Homo sapiens: one gene and its partners. The protein of the gene in region 2 purifies or fractionates together with the protein of the main gene of each other region. This does not show direct contact. Each region holds a gene or a part of one and is shown on either strand. Other genes may lie near its edges. The genes, in order: FCRL4, MUC15 and CDS1.

Region 1 (7,346 bases), on a different chromosome or scaffold from region 2:
GTGCCACCACAACCGGCTAATTTTTTGTATTTTCAGTAGAGATGAGGTTTCACCATGTTGTCCAGGCTGGTCTTGAGCTCCTGACGTCAAGTGATCCACCCACCTCAGCCTCCCGAAGTGCTGGGATTACAGGCATGAGCCACTGTGCCCAGCCTCTGCAGACACTTTTTAAAAAGAAAATTCTGTCTTTAAAGGTTTGGACAGAATACTCTATGTCATCAGTGGGAATGGGGCTGTGTTTCTGCTGAAGAGAATAGAAAACCCTACCAGCTATATTCCTGGGAAGCACCTGGATGCAGGGCCATTGGGACTTAGGCAATAGGTCTTCTACTGGAGGGAAGGAGAGTTGATTTCCTTTGATGTATGCAACTAGACTCTTCTTTGCTCTGAGGAAGCTGCCCCTGCTATGTGCAGGTGGCCCTATGGCCAGGAAGGGACATAACTTTTCATGGCCTTCGTGTGTTTGAGACTGAGTTGATGGGCTCTGAGGTTAACCACATCCCTAGCTGCAGTTAATTCAAGGCACTTTTTGTATTTCATTTCCCCATTCTAGAACCATTAGCAAAGTCTGCCAAGTTATAATCTTGTCTCAGGAAGGGTGTGTGGGAAATAGTCTGTGTCCAAGGCACCGAGGAGGGGAAGAACAGCAGAGTTAGGAGCTGCAAGAGACAGTGCACCTCAAGGGGGCCAAGGCCCTTGCTGGCTCCAGCAGCTCCTAGGGTGCTCTATAGGAATGGCCAAAACACCTGTGAGGCAGCTGCCTATAGAGGATGGGACTTTTTGCTGACCAGTAGGATAGATGGAGACTCAGAGTCATCATAATTTGAGCTATTAACAGAGAAGTGTGTCTCCATGGGATGCAGAAGTTGGGGATAAATTTGTTACACATGGTTAGTGGAAAAGCTGCTGGAGCCCCAGCCTCCCCCTCTGAAGTATTGGCTTATTTCTACCCTTTTCCTCTTGGGATGCTATGCATTCCATCAGGCTTGGCTAGAATCCCACATCAGGCGGGGTGACAGCTCCTCTTCCTGTGGACGCTGTGACACATATCCCAGGCCCTGCCATGTTTAGCCAGCACAATGGCAGTTTTGGTTTAAGAGAGTCACCCCCAAATAGCCTGGTTCTTAGGGTCAGAGTCACCACACGAGCTGATGTCTCTACATCCCTGCAGCACTCAGGAAAAGGATGAAATGGACAACAGGGACTCTTGTAAGTATTTGAGATAAAATATAGTTATTAGGGTATCTAGAGACATAAAGGAGCAAAGAAAATAAGGACTTACCAGATTGTCCACAGACTGGAGCTGAAAGAGAGTAAAGAGCCAGCCATCAGCGTAGGCGAAGAGTCCCGAACTATTCACCCTGAGAGCCCATACACTCATATGCTACTTCCAACCAAGAGGAAGAGAAACACGTTCCATTCCATCCATCCCAGGGAAGCGGGGAAACACAGTGGCCAGACGCTCAGGCTGTGGACTCAGACAGTCTGGTTTGAATTTTAGCTGTATGACCCAGGGCAAACCACATGAACTTTCAAGTCTCAGTTTTCTCATTTGAAAAATGAGGCTCATGAAAGCGACCTCATAGTAATACTGTAATGAGTTAGATCAGTAAGGTTTCAATTAATGGCTGCTGTCATTAATTTTTTAGTATGGGGCTGCTGCTGATTCCTCTTCTCTTGACTCAGAACACTTATTATCATAGCTAATTTGGAACTCAAAATGAGACAGACAGTAGAGGGTAGTAGTTAAAAGCCTAGTTTCCAAAGTTAGATTATGGGTTCGAATCCTGACTCTGCCACTGTACTAGCTGCATAAACCTCAGGGACAAGACCAACATCTTTGTGCCTTCATTTCCTCATTTGTAAATGGGAGTTATAAAAGTTCCACCTGATCAAATGTTAGAGAATTGGATACATTTATACATGGGGTGCCCTTAGAAAAGTGGGATGTAGCCAGGGCTTAGCACAAATTAACTGACATCCTCACACATTATCCTGTAACTATTTGTGTAATATTTTTCTCATATTGTCGAGTCAGATGTTCTTGCATGTGTACGTTGAGGTTCTATTGAGAATGTCACCTCTTGAGGGCAGAATCTGTGTCCTTCAGGTCTCTGCATCCTCTGTGGTGCCCAGCAGTGTGGCATGCCAAGTATACCCATCCACTCACTCCTTAGTTCCTATCATGTGCCAATCACACTAATAGGTCTTCCCTTAGTTGGGGTCTGGGGATCAGGTGGGAACTAGACAAATACGCTTAATAAATATTTAATGAACAAAAGACTGACTGTTCTTTAATTCCCTAGTTTGAGCAACTAGGAAATCCGTGCCTCATTTGGACAAACACTGACAAGTGGTACAAAAGCAGGAAGAAAAAAATCAAAGGGAAATCATCTTATCTCTTCTCTTCTCATGCTCTTTGCAAACATCAGAACAGGTTTGAACTTAGAATACAGAGAAGGAAATAACTATTCTCAGCAGGTGATCCTTTCTACCTGAGTTCACAATCAGGACTTTATCCTTCACAAATAACTCAGTCCATCTTTTCCTCTGGGTCCTCATGCTCTGTGACGTAGGGACTGAACCTAGCCATAGGTTTCTTTTTGCATAAACAAAATAAGTCCATTTGGGGGTAAAATGATTTTCCATAGGCAATTCATAGCAAAAATAGATGAGAAATACATCTTTGGAAATCAATTATTATCATTTTCCCCTTCTACCAGTAAATCATTATCTTTCCTTTTTGTTCATTTTCTGCTGTTCTAAAATGGGAGTAAAAATCCATGATTGCAGCAGCAGAAAAGAGGGCTTTTGCTCATGGTGAGGCTCAGCTTTGCAGCAAGCAAAGGTCTCCTCCCCATCACTTACCAAAGGCCAGCAAGGACGCCCACAGCAGCATGGAAGCCTGCTCCAGGATTGGAGAAGGAGTTCTGAGGAGACAAGCCAGGTCAGCCCAGATTGCCAAAGCAGCACTTGCCTACACCAGCACCAGCAGTGAGCTCAGTAAGCTTCTTCTCTGCATAAAGCTGATTGAGATAATGAAGTGAAAGGGGGAAGTAGAGGAATCTTTCTGAAAACACCAAACAGCAATGTGGACCAGTGTGAGAGAATCCAGACCACAAAAATCAAAATTTAATAGAATTAAGTACTGCTGTGACATCCTGGGGTGAATCACTTCTCAAGGCTAAAGCTACTCTAGTTTCAGAACTCTCTAGGCTCTGTCTTTCAAGGAAATCACAACCTATTCTCTCTGCTACTAGAGATGAGGTGAGATTGCAGGCCTATTGAAATCCACATAATCTAAGGATGTCCCTGAATATCCCCAGAGATGAAGAATTTCTCATTCAACACAGAAAAGGCCTCCTCTGACCGCTGATACCTCTACTGGAACACCTCCAGCAGGCCGTCTGTAGACCTGATGAAACATCTCAATCACAAGACAACTCTCACCTTGTCTGATATATATGAAAATATCCTGACTCATCAGTCCAGGGGGAAACCACAACTTTTGATCTGAGTAGAAGGCAAGCTGAGGAGTAAATTATAGCCCCATCATGCTCTTCCTAGATAATAGGCCATAACATTTTTACTTAATGTCCTAGAATCCAAAATTTGCTACAGGAATGTCTTGGCAAATATATATTGATTGAAATACATATGCCTGGTATCTGGTGGCAGAGAGAAGAAGTTGTGATTTCCTTGAAAGACAAGAGGCTAGAGAGTTCTGAAAATATGATGGCTTTAGCCTTGAGAAGCGATTCACGTCAGGAAGTCAGAGTGGGTATTTAAATAATTCTATTAAATTTTGATTTTTGCCATTTGGATTCTTTCACACTGGGCAACATGCTGTTTGGTGTTTTGAGAAACACCTAATGCTCTCCCTACCCATAACAAACCTGCACACTCTGCTCATGTATCCCAGAACTTAAAAAAAAAATTAAGAAAAAAATGGAAAAATCCGTAGTGACGTTTTTTGGTACGTATAATATTTTGGTATGTATAACTCTTTAAAACTTTTTTATGCTATTATCTTGTGTATATGTATGTGTATATATATATATATATATATATATATATATATATATATATATAAAATGTTAATGGCAAAAAAAAAGAAACACCATGGTGCTTCAGGTATGGTGCCAGGTGCTGGAAGTACAGTGTTAATCAAGACTTGGAAAGCTTTCATTCTGGTGGAGAAGACAGCAAGTCAACAGGAAATTACATAGAAGTGAATTGTATGTAATTTCTGAGAGTCCACTAAGAGGGAAATCTGACCCAGTTCTGGGGATGCATAAGAGGCTTCCCTGAGGAAGTAACATCCAAGCTGAAAGAATATCATTCTAGGACTGAGAGATGAGCATGCACTAAGATGGAAGGCAGTTATCGTGACCATCACCATCACATCAAGATATCTGTGAATAGATAATAGACATAGGATGGATTAAGAGTGGTCTGTATTTTTCTAATATAATGTTTTTCTATATATCTGTAATAATTTATTTTCTAACTAGGGTTTGTATTGAACATCAACTATATTTTAGACAATGTCCATGGCCTTAGAAGAATAAAAAGGTGAATAAAGTGCATCTCTCTTAAAGACTTTAAAAAAGTCAATGTGGTAAGGGCCAGAGTAGACATAGACACAAGGAACCATAAAGACATAGAGCTGTCAAGGCGGCACATGGGTCCTTTGTCTCCTTGCCGTGTGACCGTGCTGTCATCTTTCAGCTGCCTTCATTTGTCCCAGGAGGAGCAAGGGTATAAAATGGCAGTCAAGAACCTGATCTGCAGAATCCCACACATCTGGATGAAATCTTGACTTCACCTCTTGCTAGTTGGGTGACTCTGGTCAAGTACTTAGCCTCTTTCACACTGGTAAAAAGGAGATAAAAATAATGTCCAGCTGAAGTGGATGTTGTTATTGATGTTTGTATGAATACATTAATGACATAGAACTCTCAGCTTAGTCCCTATGCTGAGAACTATTCTGTAATACTAGAAGTAACAAGTATAATGAACTAAAAAGCACTTTATAATTGACATAATATCCTACCAACATTTTTGTATTCCTTATAACACTGGAAAATAGTATTTAGCATGAGTTTAGAACTCCAATATTTATTGACTGACTAAGGATTGAGGGAAGTTGAAATCATATTGCCTGTTTTCTTGTTTCTACCATAAGTTTTGCTGAATGAATAGATTTCAATTAGCAAAATAAAATTTCACATTTATGATGTTATACAAGATGTCCAAACACAAAAATCATATTTATTTACAACTACTGTGTAAATGTTTAAGTTTACGTCAGTCAAGTACTATTTTTGTTGTGGTATTTAAGTCACTGACAGAAATATTTTAGTTATTGGTGCCAGAAGTGTGGTTAGTACTTTGAAACATCAGCCAGGAAGTACATATACCATGATTTATTAAGCAATTGCTTGACTAACCAGGAACTTTTAGATTTTATATTAACAAAGGACAAAAATAATTGTTTTCAATGAGAATGTAAGAAACTGAAATTTTTAAACTTTTCTAATTTTTTTTTGAAAAACATTTAAACCTTTACAGTTTAAAAAATAAATTTTCATTTTGGGGTAATTCTAGATTTATATAAAATAGTAAGGATAATACAAAGAGTTCCCATATAGGAAGCCCTCACCTGTTTCAATTTCCCCTACCGTTATCATTTCACATCATGGGGGTGCATTTATCAAAACTAAGAAACCAAGATTGCTACATTACTATTAATTACAGGCTTTATCCAGCTTTTTTCAGTTTTTCCATTGATACCTTTTTCCTCTTCTAGTATCCCTTCTAAGATACTACATTACATTTAGTTATCTTTGCTCCGTCTCTACATTACTATTAATTACAGGCTTTATCCAGCTTTTTTCAGTTTTTCCATTGATACCTTTTTCCTCTTCTAGTATCCCTTCTAAGATACTACATTACATTTAGTTATCTTTGCTCCGTCTCTACATTACTATTAATTACAGGCTTTATCCAGCTTGTTTCAGTTTTCCATTGACACCTTTTTCCTCTTCTAGTATCCCCTCTAAGATACTACATTACATTTAGCTATCTTTGCTCACAGACGTCTCTTCTCCATCTGTGAGTTTCTCAGTGTTTCCTTGTTTTTCATGACCTTGACAGTTTTGAGGAGTACTGGCTAGGTAGTTTGCGGCGTCTTTCAATCTGGGTTTGTCTGACGTTTTGGTCATAATTAAACTGGGGTTATGAGTTTTCACAAAGAATACTACAGCGGTAGAGTGTCCTTCTCATCACATTGGGGGTATGGAATCTCAACATGACTTATCACTGGTAATGTAAATTGTGATCACTTGGTTAAGGTAGTGTTTGCCAGGTTTCTTCGATGTAAAATTACTGTTTGTCTTTTTCTATATTCTTTCGTTTGGGAGCAAGTCCAGCCCACAGTCAGGGTGAGAGGTGAGGTAGGGGGATTTGTCTCCTTGTTCTTATTTACTTATTCATGTATTCATCCATTCAATCATTTATTTATATCACTATAGATTTGTATATTTACTTTAAACTTTGGTAACAATATAATGCTTTATATATTTTGTTGCTCAAATTGATCCAGCTTTGGTGATTGGGAGCTCTTTCAGGTCAGCTTCTTCTTTGTGCCTTTGAGAAACTCTCATCATTTTCCTTGTTGGAACATTTCTGTACTGTCTGGCACTACGAGATGCTCCTGGCTCATCTTACATTTTCCTGCCCCAACTCTAGAATCAGCCACTTCTTCAAGGAGCCCCAATTCCTTTCAGTAGAGACTGATATTTAGAAACCAAGATCTGAGTGCTGAGTATGGTCTTTACTACTACGGGAGAATCATACATTTTTAACTATGTGACAGGGAGTCTGTGGTCTTGTCAGTGCTTTATGGGTGGGAAAAATACTGGAAAGATAAATTTGTTGTTCTTGCTATTAAAAGACTCTTCTCCCAAATCAGTGGCTGTATACGTAATGATTTCTATAGCCATTTGTTAGTAATGGAGGAACAGCCGCTTGGAGTAATCAACTTTGAACTTCAAAGAAAAGGCAGTGAAGAAGCTCAATTACATTTATTTGTAGGCTGGTGCCATCTAGAAGCCGCATTTTATTTTCCATGACTACAGATAATAATATTTCTAGCCTTCAGTGGTAAAATATAATCTCCTTTTGTTTTAGAGACGTTTCCGAGATGATTTCTTGTTCTAAGTCGAGACTCTTCTATCTTCATGAACATACAGATCTTTTTGCTCAAAAACTTGTCCAAAGTGAGAACAGAATCGCAGGTTGTTAGTGCCCTCTATTCCAGATTCACAGATCCACAGTTATGT
Region 2 (7,132 bases):
TAACTTGAAAACCTAGGGTATCAACACCCCCAAACGTGCGAAGCACTCTGTTACTGCCTATAATTTATCTCCCAGGAAAAGGAGAGAAATGGAAGAGAGGGGTAGTTCAGTATGTTGTGAATACTATTAAATATTTATGGTTTATTCAGAAATTTATACACTACAGATAAGGCTTTTGTGAAGACGGATTGTCCTGACATTGCAGTAGGGACAAGTTTGCCTCTGCTGCCTGGCTTCTAGGAGAGCCAGGTTACGCCACTTACTCAGGTTCCTTTCATCTTAAAGTCGTAGAAGCAGCCAGGAATTGAAGTCATCCGTTATTCAGAACCCCACCATGAAATTTTGCTGGAGTAAGGTCCAGGAGATTTGGCCGAAGTTTGACCTCATGCCAACTGAACAAAGCACATTGCAAGTGACAGAAGCCTAATGGAGGTGGGACAGCAACTCCAGAGGGCAACAAATGAAATCTATATATGTTTTACTTTCGTGTGTGCTTTCCTTTTAGCCTCTCTCCATCTCTGGAGTTCAAATATCTAACTCTATGTTATATACTTGCTTTATAAAGCTGAAATGATGATGGATTATGGATGGTATCCCTGAGTGCACCCAAGTTCATCTGTCAGCCAGGTGCACTGTGGGGGCAGACAGAAGGTGGGATGAAAGAAAAGTAGAATTGCAGAGGGAGAGAAATCAGGAGAACCCAGTAATGATTTCACCTCCTGATCTTTGCCTCTTTTTGCATCTGGGTGGTAGCTCCTAAGAGAAATTTTGAAGTTATAAAATAGAGGTTTAGGATCATCACAAACTCGAAAACCTTCTAAAGGTAGAATTACTATAAAGTGAACAGAGAAAGAAAGGAGGATTTCCAGTTCCTTTGTGATACCTTAAATACAGATTCTAAACTTTCCTGTATATATTAACATTTTTTTTGTTTTAAAATTTAACTAGTTTTAAAATATATTTTCATAGTGTCACTGTTTTAGAACAACTCCTCTACAGAGGGAGAATGAACACGACTTTCGCCTTCTTTGTTACTGGCACTGGAAAGTGGTTTCACATTATTACTTTTGTATGGAGGGCTGCAGAAAGTGATGAGAAAAAACAAAAACAAAAAACACCTCTGGCCAGTAAGGGAAGCAAACCCACATTCACTGTCCATATTTTTGCTTCCTTTTAAATGCATAAAGTCATTATTCTGTCCAGGCTCTCTGTTGAAATCGTGGGTCATACTTATTTTATACCAAGCTTTGGAAATAAGGAGATGTCCTGGTTTATGTCAGGTAATTAACCCATATAAGGGCAAAGAAATGCTACTCATTCTAAACAGAATCAAAATCAGAAATTCTAAATAGAATCATCAGTTCAGGTATACTGCAGGCATAATATAAAAACATGTTTCTATAGTAAAATCACTGACGACTATACATTGGGCTGCCTTTTCTCCAAGTTGTGTTTGATCATTTCTTCTCACAGATGTTAGGCTACAAATTAAGACAGATGGGTTTTGTTTGTCTCTCAAAGAAAACTCTGTCTGCTATGTAGCTAACATCTCAGGAAGAACTTGAGTGTTACTCTGAGTGACTTTTTCCAATGTTGGACAGTATTTTTAGTTTCCTAAATTCAAGAGCAACAATAAATGAGGACATAAGACATCCTTCTAAAAATGCCTCTTTTATGAGAGGGTTTTGGAAGCGTAACCAACTAGAAAAAGGATTGTGACTGAGAAACTTAGGCCTCTCATTTTACTTTTATGTGATGTAAAAAGAAAGAAAAAATAAAAAAGAAAAGACTGGCTTTCTTTCAAGAAAAAAACAAATTTCAGAAGTTTGAGAACATTATTCTGGCTAAAAGACTTAGGCTATGTAACTACAGGAAAAATGTAGAGTTTGTCATATGACCTGCTACCTTGGGAGTTTTCAGTCATAAAATTCAGTACTTAACTAATTAGTGATGAGTGTCAAGCTTAGAAAGAAAGAAAGTTTCTCCGAAAGGAAAGTTCTAGATCAAAATTTTCAAGCATAGGGTTTCCAGCCTTCTGTATCATACTGTAATGTCTATAGGAGCAGCCTCTACAGACTAAATAGAAAGTAGATAAATGGAAATCAGCATCCTTTTAATAAAAAAAGAGGCTTATATAGCCACAAAATGAAAATAATTTTAAGAAATTTTACCACATTTTCATTTCATAGGATGTTTTCTGTAGTAACTGATGTAACCTTTTAGATTTCCAGTGAAAGTTAGACATGTACACATATCATGCTAAATAATTATATGTACTGTACAACAGTTTCCCAACTTTTTAATTAAGAAAATCTTTGAAAAAGATTTATAGAAGCTTCTAATCTATTTTATTAGAAGATTTTTTCCAAAACTATTCTAATACTTAAAGCAAAAACCTCTAATACTTAAAGCAAAAACCTTTCAGCACAAATGCATAATTTAAATCTAAGATTCAATTTATATTCATGCTGCCACTTCCACTTTAAACATTTTGAAACCTTTACTAAGATCTGACTTAAGAAAATTCTATTTCATAGTCACGTATGTTTTAAATAAGGCTTTTATTTAACTCTTCTGCTGGTTCTGTAATCTAGCAAATTTGGCAGTAATTTTTAAAGCTAACTCATTTAGGAGTGCAAATACTCATTTGGAAGGTCATTACTTAATAAAACAACTACTTGTCTCTGCAAGGATTGCCGTAGCTACTTGCCAGGCTGTTCTGTCAAAGTTGAGACCACTGCGATTCTCTTTGGTAAATAATCAAGGAAGAGAGAGAGTAGAGAGTGAAAGAGAGAAAGCGAGAGACCTAAGTGACCCAACGCACACTTACCTTCAGGCTTAGGAGGTATTTACAATCAGGAACTGAAATATCACAGTTGTCCTGTCTGAAAGGAATCTGTCGTGCATTAGAGAAAACAGATGGGTTAAGTGTGACAATGTCGCACTGAGCAGGAGGGTGCCAGGGAAACAAAATTAGGTGGGGCTGGCTGTATCTTGCTTGTGTAACAGAGCGCCCAGGAACCTGACTGACCTGCTTCTCAGCTGTAAGCATTAAGATATCACCTCATTCAGGCCTTTAACAACAACAACAAAAGCCCAACCCTCCAGTTTTCATAGGTTGATCGTTTTAGCTTTGGGACAAGGTATTACTCTCGTCAGTGGTAGCAAAACACGGGTCATCAATTTTTTTTTTCACCCTAAGTGAAAAAAAGGACAAAGATTTTGGCAAAGTCATCTGGTATAGCAGGAATTTCTGACATGTGCTGGGCCCCCTGCTCCTTGCAGGTGAGGAATCCAAACAAGTCATGCCCTGCACTTGTTGCTCTATGCCAGCCGCACATTCTCTGAAATCATAAACAATTTTTCTGTACTCTAGTAGATTGCCCTATTTGTGTACTTAAAGCCTAAGTAGAGAAAATGTAGTGGGGTCAGTAGTGAGGCGTCTATTCTGAGGTCCACTGAAATTGTTTTTTTAAGAAACTCCTACTTAACACAAAGTGAATTAGTAGCATATATTGGGATCCCTGAGAACGCTGTGAGGTGTTACATGAAAAATAATCATCATGACTGAGATTCGGTTTCTTGCTGACTTTCAGGAGTTTGGAGAGGAACTGGGGCCTGAGAATGGCCATGTGATCCTCACTTATCCTAGGAGCCTTCTCGATTAAGTAGTTTCCACCCTGTGTTCTCTCTGGTTTACTCTCACTTTAGAAGCTGGAGAATTTCAGAAGTGCCCAGGTAATGCTTGATTAAATACTAGAGTTGAATAACAACTTGGCATACTTCCTACACTTCCTTTCAGAGCTTATGAAAGGGAGAAGAGTGAAACTGGGATCTTCCGCACATCAGCGTTTGGGGATGGCGCCAAGGGCCGTTCAGCTCAATATGCCTGAGGTTCATACTTGGTTTCTGCTGCACAAGGAGATAGGTTTTCAACTGCTGAGCGAGAAACGAAACTTTAGCTAAAATGCAGGAGCTAGTAAGCTTCAAATGGAATGCAAAGAATCTGCCCAGTTAATTGGCCCGAGGAAAGAACAAGGTAATTCTATAGTTTTAAATTTTCTGAAGCCCAAAGGCCCCTTCAGAGTTTGATTAGAAATTAAACCAACCCCGAAAAAATATTGTCTCAAAAGATATTTAAGCTGTCTCTACTGTGGTACGAAGAAAAGCAGGTTAAATTTAATCAAACAGTTAGTTACTGAACAGTGGCTTAATAGAATTCAATGGCTTATTTTCAGATTAGCCACTTTTTAGGTAAAAATCCAACTAAATATATTTTCTGTTTGTAGTTAGAGAACTGAACATGATTGGGCAGGACTGGGTGCACCTTTTCCCTAGGCCTTTTCTGCAATATGTGTGGGAATATCATTATCCCCTTCTGCCTTAACCATAGTAATTATGGCTTATACCAGGCATAAACATTGCAATGCACTTTTGCTATAGCTCTCCGTTTTCACTGCCATAAAAGTCCCGCTAATTTCTCATGTTGCTTTTTCCTGAAGACCCTTTCTGTGGGCCCAGAATCCTATTCATCATTGCCCTCCTTACAATCATAATCAATTGATTAGACCTCACCCTAGAGATAAACCTTACCTACCCTCACTGTCTTGAGCACATCTGGAAATAAACTTATAAAATGTAAACTGTACGTAAATTTAATGCCTCAGTTGTTACTTAGCTCACTTAGTTGTTATCAGAAACCTTTGTTTACTCATGGAGTTGGAGTTAAAAAGTAATTTCTAGCCAAACAAACAAGTTTCACTGAGATACAGTCCTAGGTTCTAGGTAAGACCAATCCCACTTTAGACCTCCTTTCTCCAGAGGAACTCCACAATGAGAGATAATTACCTGCAATTTCATCAGCAAACCCAGCTGAGATGACACACTGTGCAGTGCTTGTATAATTTTTTTTGGTACTTACCCACTATGGTGCCTTTCATCTGGCACTCACCAATTGCTTTACACTCATTAATTACGTTTCACAATACATACTGGGAGGAAGAAAAACCTCTTCCTAGTCTGCAATGATAGAACCACTCACAAGTGGAGTTTCCAGAACACGAAGACACATGAATATCACTAATGGATCTGAATACAGAAGCAGACATAGCTTGGGACCACACTTCAAACTAATTGAAAACATTGTTTTGAATCCAAAAGAGTATCTTTTTGTACAAATCCTATAGCATCAAATCTTGATGCTGATGTCACATGTAGGGAATTTGCATTGATCAGATTCACTGATAGCATATTTAGTCTGATACAGGCTACAAGTGGAATTCATGTTTGTTTCCCCATAGGGACATAGGTACTTTAAGCAAATAAGAAATATTTGAATAATAGTAAAATAAATTACATTATGAATCTATTATTTGAGAGTATTTTAATGATATTCTTTATAAATAAAATAGAATTTAACGGCTGGGAAATGTATTTGGGGATAACATTTAATTTATTTCAATATTCTATTAGGATAGAAATAGAGGGATTATTCTCATAAATGCTAATGGTTGTTTATTATTCAAGTTTATCTTTCTCTGGTAAGTAATATGGTGCTATAATAAGATCTTCTTCACTTAACTATAACTTTTTGGAAAGGTCAAATATTCCATTTTGGGGTTAAGGAAATTCTAGGACAATGCCCTTGGTTAAGCAGAGGTTATGATATTGCATATACATATATGCAAGTATACATACTTGCATGCATACATACATAAATGGTGAGCTAAAGAAAGTTGTAAACCTGGTCAATCAACTAAAAATAACTTTAAAGGATAGATCTTTATGTGATTTGGGGCATTTAATTCGACCATAGTTAAAAGAATTGAATGATAAGACTATAGCAAAACCTGTTGCATTTCTATCTATATATTTATGTGAACCTGTTTTCTTAGTAAACATTTTGAAATATAAAATATATAATTGAAAATACCATATTGTAACAATATAAAATATGAATTGAAAAACAAACACAAACCCTATTGATATCCTTAAGAATATAACAGTCTTAGATTTTGCATTTAATATTCATTAAAATTTAAAATTGATTATATTGTTTTATTACTTCTGATGATTACTCAATTCTAATTGTTTTTTAAGGTAAGAGCCTAATGGTCACAAGAAATTTTAAAAATTTAAACAATTGCTATCTCATTTTTAAAATTATTTTAGAGTACTATGCAAGATAATCAACACTTTCAAACATAAATATATATTAGAAATATTTTGAAGTAGAAATTGGATGGAAATAGATTTAAAGATAAAATGAACAATTTAAATTTTGCAACAGATTAGTGCTTTTTAAAGGTATATTTTTAAAGAGACACAATTAGGTATAAAATACTAGTATAAATTTATTTTAAAATGTCCATTTTTATAAAGCACTGGAAATCATAACCTTTACGACTATTTAAATATATAATGGAAAGAAATTTTGTACAAGGAGATAAATAATTTCACAAAATTATTTTAGCGATTACACAATCATTTTCAAAACCACTGACATTGTGCAGCTATTAAATTCAGAGTAGTAAATCAGACATTTTCAATAATTTCTATGTGATGGCTAATAGTACTTGAAGCTGTTCATAGGTTTAAAATATTTTCTTGGGTATTTTTCTGTATTATTTAGGGTCTCACATAGTGTCCACTATATCTTTTTATCTTCCCTTCCAGTTCTAGCCAAACAAAAACAAAAAAGGTAGAGGATAGCGTTGTTACAAGATGATGGAAACATTTAAAAAATAAACAATACTTTCTTCAGAATGATACTTTTGCTGACGTGATCATAGTCCGCACATGTTAGCAGAAAGACTTTGTCGCTCAGGTGGCCCCATGAAATCTTTATTCAGTGTTAGCACTCTGGGGCTCTGTCTCTGGCTAGATTCTCCAGATTTATAATCACCAAGGAAGCAGTGTGCTGAGTAGAACAAGCTCAGGCTACCACGTCACAGTTTCTTTGTTTTGAATCCTGGTTTTGCCACTTAATGGTTTCATAACCTTGGATAATTGCCATCACGTTTCCAAGAATATTTTCTCATTTGTACAATAAAGAAAGTGACACTACTTCTTAGTTGTGTGTGGAGTCAAGTTAAAATAGATAAAATAATTGTGTGTTACTGGACACTTAGTA
Region 3 (7,065 bases), on a different chromosome or scaffold from region 2:
TTAGGATATAGCTTCAGCTGTGTTTGATGAAAATGTTGCTGAAAGCAAATTAGGTCACAGCTAGATTCAAGCTATGATTCAAGCTAGGTTCAAGCTATGACTCAAACCCAGGGTTCTTGGTATAGAAACTCCATACTTCTAACTACACCATAGCACTCTCTCCTCTGATACTCTCTCACTACAATACTTGATAGTACACCATTATTTTCCCGTGCAATTCCATTAAAAATAAAAATGTAAATATAAGTTGTTTTTCAAGATTTTCCCATAAAATGTTTCTCTGGTGGCCTAAATCAGAAATTCCTACCTCTAACTTATAAACAAAGCTGACAGAGGGCAACAGAGAAAGATAGGTCAAGCGACAAAAGCTGTTACTTGGGTATCTAAGCAACTGGAAACGCTTGGCTGAGGAAGATTTCTTCCGCCCCTGGCAAGCTGGGGACATTCCAGCAGGGCACCTTTGAGCCTCTGATGTGAAAAGCAGCTCAGATTCACATTCCCACCCCAGAGGGGCATGTTTATCAGTCTGGGAACATTCTGAGGGTATTCAGGGAAGAGTGGTAACAAACTGCTTCATCTACTCTCACTACTTCAGGCAACGTCTCTGCATCTTATGCTCTTATTACTTCCAGCAAAAGAGAAGGTAAACAGTAATCTAAAATAAAAACCATATAAGCAATAACGTTAGCACTCTCTCTCATCTCTCTAGCAAATTCCTCATTAGGAGTTAGAAGGTGAAAAAAAATTTTTTTTAAAATTTTTTTTTTAATTTTTTTGAGATAGGGTCTCACTCTGTCACCCAGGCTAGAGTGCAGTAGAGTGAACAGGGGTCACAGAGGCCTCGAACTCCCAGGCCCAAGCAATCCACCCGCCTCAGCTTTCCAAGTAGCTGGGACTACAGGCACACGCCACCATGCCCAGCTAATTTTTAAATTTTTGTGTAGAGATGGGGTCTCCATATGTTGCCCAGGCTGGTCTTGAACTTCTGGGCTCAAGAGACATTCATGCATCAGCCTCCTAAAGTGCTGGAATTACAGATGTGAGCCACCACGCCCGGCTGGAAAATCTTAAAATCAATCCAAGAAGTGCTGGCTGGGTTGTACTACGTGATTAGGCCCATGCATATGCTTAGGGTTTCCATGAAGCCCTTCAGCAGGATAAATACAAGAAAAATTAACAGGTAAAGCCTTAGAAACCATTACACGCCAGATTTTGTGTTACCAAACACAAATACAATAAATTTAGAGAACATAAGTTCCCTGAATGAAAACGAAAGATAAAAATAAAAAAGAAAGAAAAAGGAAAAATTAGAAAAAAGACATAGAAAAAGTCTGAGAACACAGAGTTCCGTAAGCCAGTTGTGGTTGAGTATATTGTACAGTATCTTAAGTAAAATAAAGTCATTACTACAACCACTTTTAATAAGTATTAAAATCAACTTCTCTCTGATATAAAGTGAAAATGAAGAAAAGTGTCTATGTAAGTCTAAAATAGACTTTAAATGAAGAAACCATAAATACTATACATTCATGGGTTGCATAACAATGTTTCAGTCAACAATGGACCACATATACCACTGTAGCCTATAAGATTATAATACCATATTTTTATAGTACCTTTTCTATGTTTAGATACACAAATACTTACCATTGTGTTACAGTTGTCTAAGTAATAGGCTATACCATGTAGCCTGGGTGTGCAGTAGGCTATGCCATCTAGGTTTAGTATACCCTGTGATGTTGCCCAATGATGCATTTCTAAGAATGTATCCCCACTGTTAAACAACATATGACTGTATAAATTTCCCTTGTTGTGCTATACCTTTGCCATCCCATCATTTCTTCATTCACCTCTTCAGCAAACATTGTTACCTATAGAAGGGTGGTTTTTGGCACTGTGGAAAGAGCTAGACCTGTAAAGATGAATAAGCCAGTTTCTGCTGTCTGGACTCAGTCTATTCACTCAACTAGTGGTAATAGCTATAATGAAGAAGATTGAAAGAAATTGCTCTCTTAGCTAAAACACAAGAAGGAGCAGAGCTTAAGGAAGGTGAGGTAAGTAGAACCTCACATTCTATTTTGGCAGTCTTTGCATTGGTCCCACTTTTCCTGGGTTGGGGAATACTGTTTCTTCTATCACGCACTACTGTCCTCTGTTGTTCCCCTCTGTCACTCCTCTCACTCTCTTTTTTCCTCCTGCAGCAAAGGGAAAAAGTCAAAGAGGCCATGAGAGGACTAGGCAAAGGGGAAACAGGAAGTTGTTCAGGTACCTTGTGTAGTAGGTCTCCTTTTCTTGGACCATGGGGGAAAGCAAAGGCTGGATTCTGATCGTCTAAGAGCTAAAAGGGACCACAGAGGCCATCCTTACTATCCGTTTACAGCTGAGGACACTGAGGGTTAATAACTTACCAAGGCCATGCAATTAGTGGCATTGGCAGCACTAGAACTCAGGCTTCTTGACTTCCAGAGAGTTAGAATGGAGCACTTCTAATCCTTTATGCAGGGTAGGGTAGTAGCCAGAGATGGAAACCCTACTACTGGCTTCAGCCATTATTCTGATTATCTTCTTCACTATCAAGCACTCCTTCATTTCCGATCCTCCAAACAATTGGACAATTTATTAATGTAGTCACCCCATAGTTCTCTGTTCAGTAGGGACTTATTTTCAAATCTTCTCTGTCATTTCAGTTATCCACCCCATAAGGAACAAATTATGGTTTCTCGACATCCTTTTGAAAACGTGCAACCCAAACTAACCGCACAGCTTCAAAGATCTGTTTGGTGAGGTAAAATGATGTCTTTGTGTTCTGCTTTTCAATGCATCCTAATTTGACTTTTGGTTTTGCTCATTTGTTAGTAAATTTTCAACACTTTACTTACTTTTACCGTGTCAGTAAAGACCTTGAGGAATTTACATAGTTGATCTATTTCTATAAGGGTGCTCTCCTGAACCTTGTCCTGTGTGAAGGCCCGCCTTTTTTCTTTTTTCTCTTTGTTTCTCTCTTTTTTTCATTTGTTAGCTTGTCAGTAATGACCGGGTGGCGGATACATGTCAAGAAAACTAATCACCTTCTAACAGGATTAAGACTAGAATTAATGCAGATCTTGTGCCCTTCCTGTTCCCGCTTTGGCAGCCCAAGGTCCACCACTGCTCAGAGACTAGCTGGAGGGCAACGGCGTCCCATAGCATCTCACACTGTGTTGGGATCCTAGGTGGTGACCTTTGTGAGATTCAGTACTGAGTTTCTGGGAGACGGCGCTGCGGTTGTGATCGGAATTGTTGGCCGACGCACCTCTGGACGCCCAGTGAGGCAAAAGCATCTCCTGTTTTCAAGGTGATGACACTGGGCTGGAATGCCGCGGGGCCAACCAGTCCGTCCTGCCAGACAAGTTTCTGGTCCAGTGAGCCTCCGACCCGCCGCGCGTGTCAAGCTGACAAGGCCGGGGAGGCGTTTGAAGCAGCAGTGTTGAGCGCTGTTAACATTTAGCGGGCGTCTTTGAGTAGCTCCTCCAGCCCTCGCAGCGGCCCAGGGACTAGCCTGCAAGTTCTCAACGCTCACTTCCAGCCCGCGCTGGCCCCGCCTCCGCCTCCCAGCTCCTCAGCCTCCTCCCGCCCCACCGCTCCCACCTTTTCTCAGGCCCCCACCTGCCAGCACGCAGAGGCGGGGGCGGGGTCGCGGGCCGGGCTCCTGACGTCACCTCACGGGGAGGCGGGGCTGTGGGAACCGCAGTGCAGCGCAGAGGGGCGGGGCCTGCGGCGCGAGACCTGGTGCGGGAGGCCCGGGCAGGGAGAAGTGTGCGGGGCCGGGACAAGCCGGCTCCGAGTCCGGCTCCGGGGGGCGGGGCGGGAGGGGCCTGCGCGGCGGCGGGAGCCCAGAGCCGCGCTAAAGCGGGTCAAGCGTCCTCCTTTTCTCCCCGCCCCTTCTCCTCCTCCTACCTGGGCCTCTGCGTGGAGACGCGCACCTGGCAACCGGAGGCCGCGTCTCCGCCTTCTCTGCTCGCGCCTGGCGCCCGGAGCCTGCCCGGGACCTCCGCCGGAGCCGCGCTCGCTGCAGGCGGCCTCGAGCGCTCTCTCGTTGATGCCGTTTTGGAGGTGACCGGCGCGGCGGCCGCTCTATGGTGGGGCCGCGTTAGTGGCTGCGGCTCCGCGGGACTCCAGGGCGCGGCTGCGAGGTGGCGGGGCGCCCCGCCTGCAGAACCCTGCTTGCAGCTCAGGTTTCGGGGTGCTTGAGGAGGCCGCCACGGCAGCGCGGGAGCGGAAGATGTTGGAGCTGAGGCACCGGGGAAGCTGCCCCGGCCCCAGGGAAGCGGTGTCGCCGCCACACCGCGAGGGAGAGGCGGCCGGCGGCGACCACGAAACCGAGAGCACCAGCGACAAAGTAAGTGGAGCCGAGAGAGGCGGACGCCGCGCCCTGGCTGGGTCCTGGTTGGAAGCGGGACACTTGAGAGCAAGGGTGGGGCCCGTCCAGCGTCAGGTGAGGCTGCACGCTGCCGGTGCACCTTCCTCCCTGCCTGGCACTGCTTCCTCCTTCTCCAGAGGGGGTCGGGACCCGGGATCCCAGTGGCGGTGAGGTTCCCAGGATGACCGCGGCCGCTGCCCGGGAGAAATGGGCCACTCAACCCGGCTTACAGTTTAGCTTCATCCTCTTCCGGTCCCTTCTTCAGGATCTGGGGCCGACGCTGGAATCAGGAGGGAACCTGTCCTCCTAGGGGCTGCAGTGCAGTTAGTAGCTGCCACCTCACCTCTCTTTTCAGTAGAGGGAACAAAGTTAGTAAGGACTAGAGACGTGCCACCGTCGGCTGTATCATTTCATCGGATCCTGACGCGGGAGGCTTGGCTTCTCGCGCTGCCCCATATGCACTTACATTTTCTCCATCCTTTTTCAGTATGATAGATTTTGGAGGTTTTAGAGTATCATGCACGTGACATAATAGTAATCTTCCAGCTTCTTTTGAGTACACGACAGACAGTGCAATTCTTCTGTCTACCAGTAGATTTCATATAACCCGACGTTAATTCATGAAGACTTTTCACTTCCTTTTCTATAGATTACTCTTCTTTCACATTTAAGAATAAGTAGATGCGATATTACTATCTGTTTAAAGCTAGAAAAGGAATTCGGGCGTGTTTGGTAATATAGTGGTGCAAGTAAGAACTTGTGAAGAAATGCAGTTTTATGATCTTATGGACTGGATGGTTTGGGAAATTGGACCAGAGAATAGATTGTTGTATCAAACCGTCTGTTTAGAAAATTCCATTTTATTTGAGAAACCCAAAACACGTAAACTGTTTCTAGAAGCATACTTTGGAAGCAGGCATTGCAGTTTGAATTACAGAAGTGAGGTGGATTGCCCAAGGTCAAGTTCGTGGCTCTTGAAACTAGAATCTAAGTTTCCTGATTCCTTTTCTTCTGGTTTATGTGGTTGCTGAGACTGGCTGGCAGTTCTGATTTGGGGAGGATTCCACCTGAAAGTTGATGTTGATGAGTTTGATGTAACCCAAATTACAAAGCCCTAATAGGAACATATCACATGATATCACGAAATAAACGTAAACGTGATTCTTAGTACTAAAACTTTAGAATCAATGGAATCAATGTAGTGACACTTTTCCCCTTACCCTTGATAGTAAGTAGAATAAAATGAGTCTGTAATAAAACATAAGTGTCAAGGAATTACCCAAAATATAACAATTTCCAGCTACTGAAGGTTGAAGTTACAAAACTAGGAACAGTGGGCTGAGAATAGTCTTTGTGAAAACTGCCTTGGAAACTAGACCCAAAATAGAATTAATTAGGTTGGGATTTGTTTTGTTTTGTTTTTAGCACTGGTATAGTTTAGCATCAAGGAAATACCAGCTTCTCTATGCTGACTTCCTTAACTCGACAAAGCTAACAAGCTTTTGTTAAGAGAAAAGATGTTCAGGAAGCCATGCATAAAATACCTTCGGAATTAAGTTTTTTCTTTTTTTAACACCATAATGTATTTAAAATGGAAACTACTTCTGTAGTGTGATTTGACTCATTAGAACTGTTGTCTCTAGCTATCTGTGACTAGGTTACCTCGCTGCATATTTATTTATTTATCAATGCAGTACTGTTGGTTTTTATTGACACATGTCCAGCTGGATTTTGTTTTCTGAAAGTAGACTTTGCTATATGTAACCTGTTTTGTCAAGATTTCTTAGACAAGGATGAACATATTCAAACCATATCTAAAATACTGCTCTACTTTTAGAGTTTATCATGAGGAACTTTTGACTTGGCAAGCTGATAGATATTGAACTCTATCCCTGTCTGTCCTTTCTTATCAGGGTGTGTATTTGAATACACCTGTATTTCCAGGTCAAGGGCTATTTTAAAATCAGTTTGCACACTGGAGGCTGGTTAATATTTGGTCAATTCAAACTCATTAAGGGCCTTCCCTGTTCAGTTGCAGTAAAGGCAAAACTCTTGGGGAATTAGTGAAAGAAGTGAAGGAGGTACATTATATTCTGCTATTATAATACACTCCCATGCATTGCCATTTTGTAGTCTTTTAATAATGGTGTTATTAACATGACACTCCCTTTGTTCCGGACTGGTGACTTATGCTGAGAGAAGGCTCTGTACTCCAGATAATTAGCAAGTGAAAAAAATACTTCTTACCTGCAGAGGAATGTTCCCAAGTGTTAAATGTTGGAGTGGTACTTGAAAAATGACAAGGGACATCTTCAAGGAACCCTGCAGGAGACATATATGAGTTAGATTTATTGGAAGTCTGTACAAGGCTCATTGTTAGCATAGAGGGCATGCTTGGCGTCTACCTGGAGACTGTAGGAAAAGCTCTAAACAGTGGATGAGGATTGAGCTGGGAATGAAAAGATTCCTGGGACTCACCAGGTTTACAAGGGTTTGGGTAGGGTGTTCTAGGCAAAGGACGTGTTGGGTTTTTTCTTGAATCAGCATTCTAGGCACAGGGTTGCAGATACAGAGGAAGAGATAATGAAGGTCCTGAGAGCAAAAGGAGGAGGCATTGCTTAGAGCAGTGGTCCCCAAATTTTTTGGCACCAGGGATCAGTTTTGTG

The links.
Region 1: the proteins of MUC15 (region 2) and FCRL4 purify together in Homo sapiens (affinity purification with mass spectrometry; 3 studies listed by BioGRID and IntAct, with this or other methods). This does not show direct contact.
Region 3: the proteins of MUC15 (region 2) and CDS1 purify together in Homo sapiens (affinity purification with mass spectrometry; 3 studies listed by BioGRID and IntAct, with this or other methods). This does not show direct contact.

Annotation. Positions count from the first base shown.
Region 1 is NC_000001.11:157,595,046-157,602,391, forward strand, and holds the start of FCRL4 (Fc receptor-like protein 4 precursor), read right to left. Parts: upstream 3,041-7,346; 5' UTR 2,900-3,040; coding exon 2,869-2,899; intron 1,304-2,868; coding exon 1,283-1,303; intron 1-1,282. UniProt on the Homo sapiens protein: May function as an inhibitor of the B-cell receptor signaling. May function in the B-cell-mediated immune response.
Region 2 is NC_000011.10:26,569,211-26,576,342, forward strand, and holds the start of MUC15 (mucin-15), read right to left. Parts: upstream 3,054-7,132; 5' UTR 2,831-3,053; intron 1-2,830. UniProt on the Homo sapiens protein: May play a role in the cell adhesion to the extracellular matrix.
Region 3 is NC_000004.12:84,579,141-84,586,205, forward strand, and holds the start of CDS1 (phosphatidate cytidylyltransferase 1), read left to right. Parts: upstream 1-3,986; 5' UTR 3,987-4,261; coding exon 4,262-4,378; intron 4,379-7,065. UniProt on the Homo sapiens protein: Catalyzes the conversion of phosphatidic acid (PA) to CDP-diacylglycerol (CDP-DAG), an essential intermediate in the synthesis of phosphatidylglycerol, cardiolipin and phosphatidylinositol.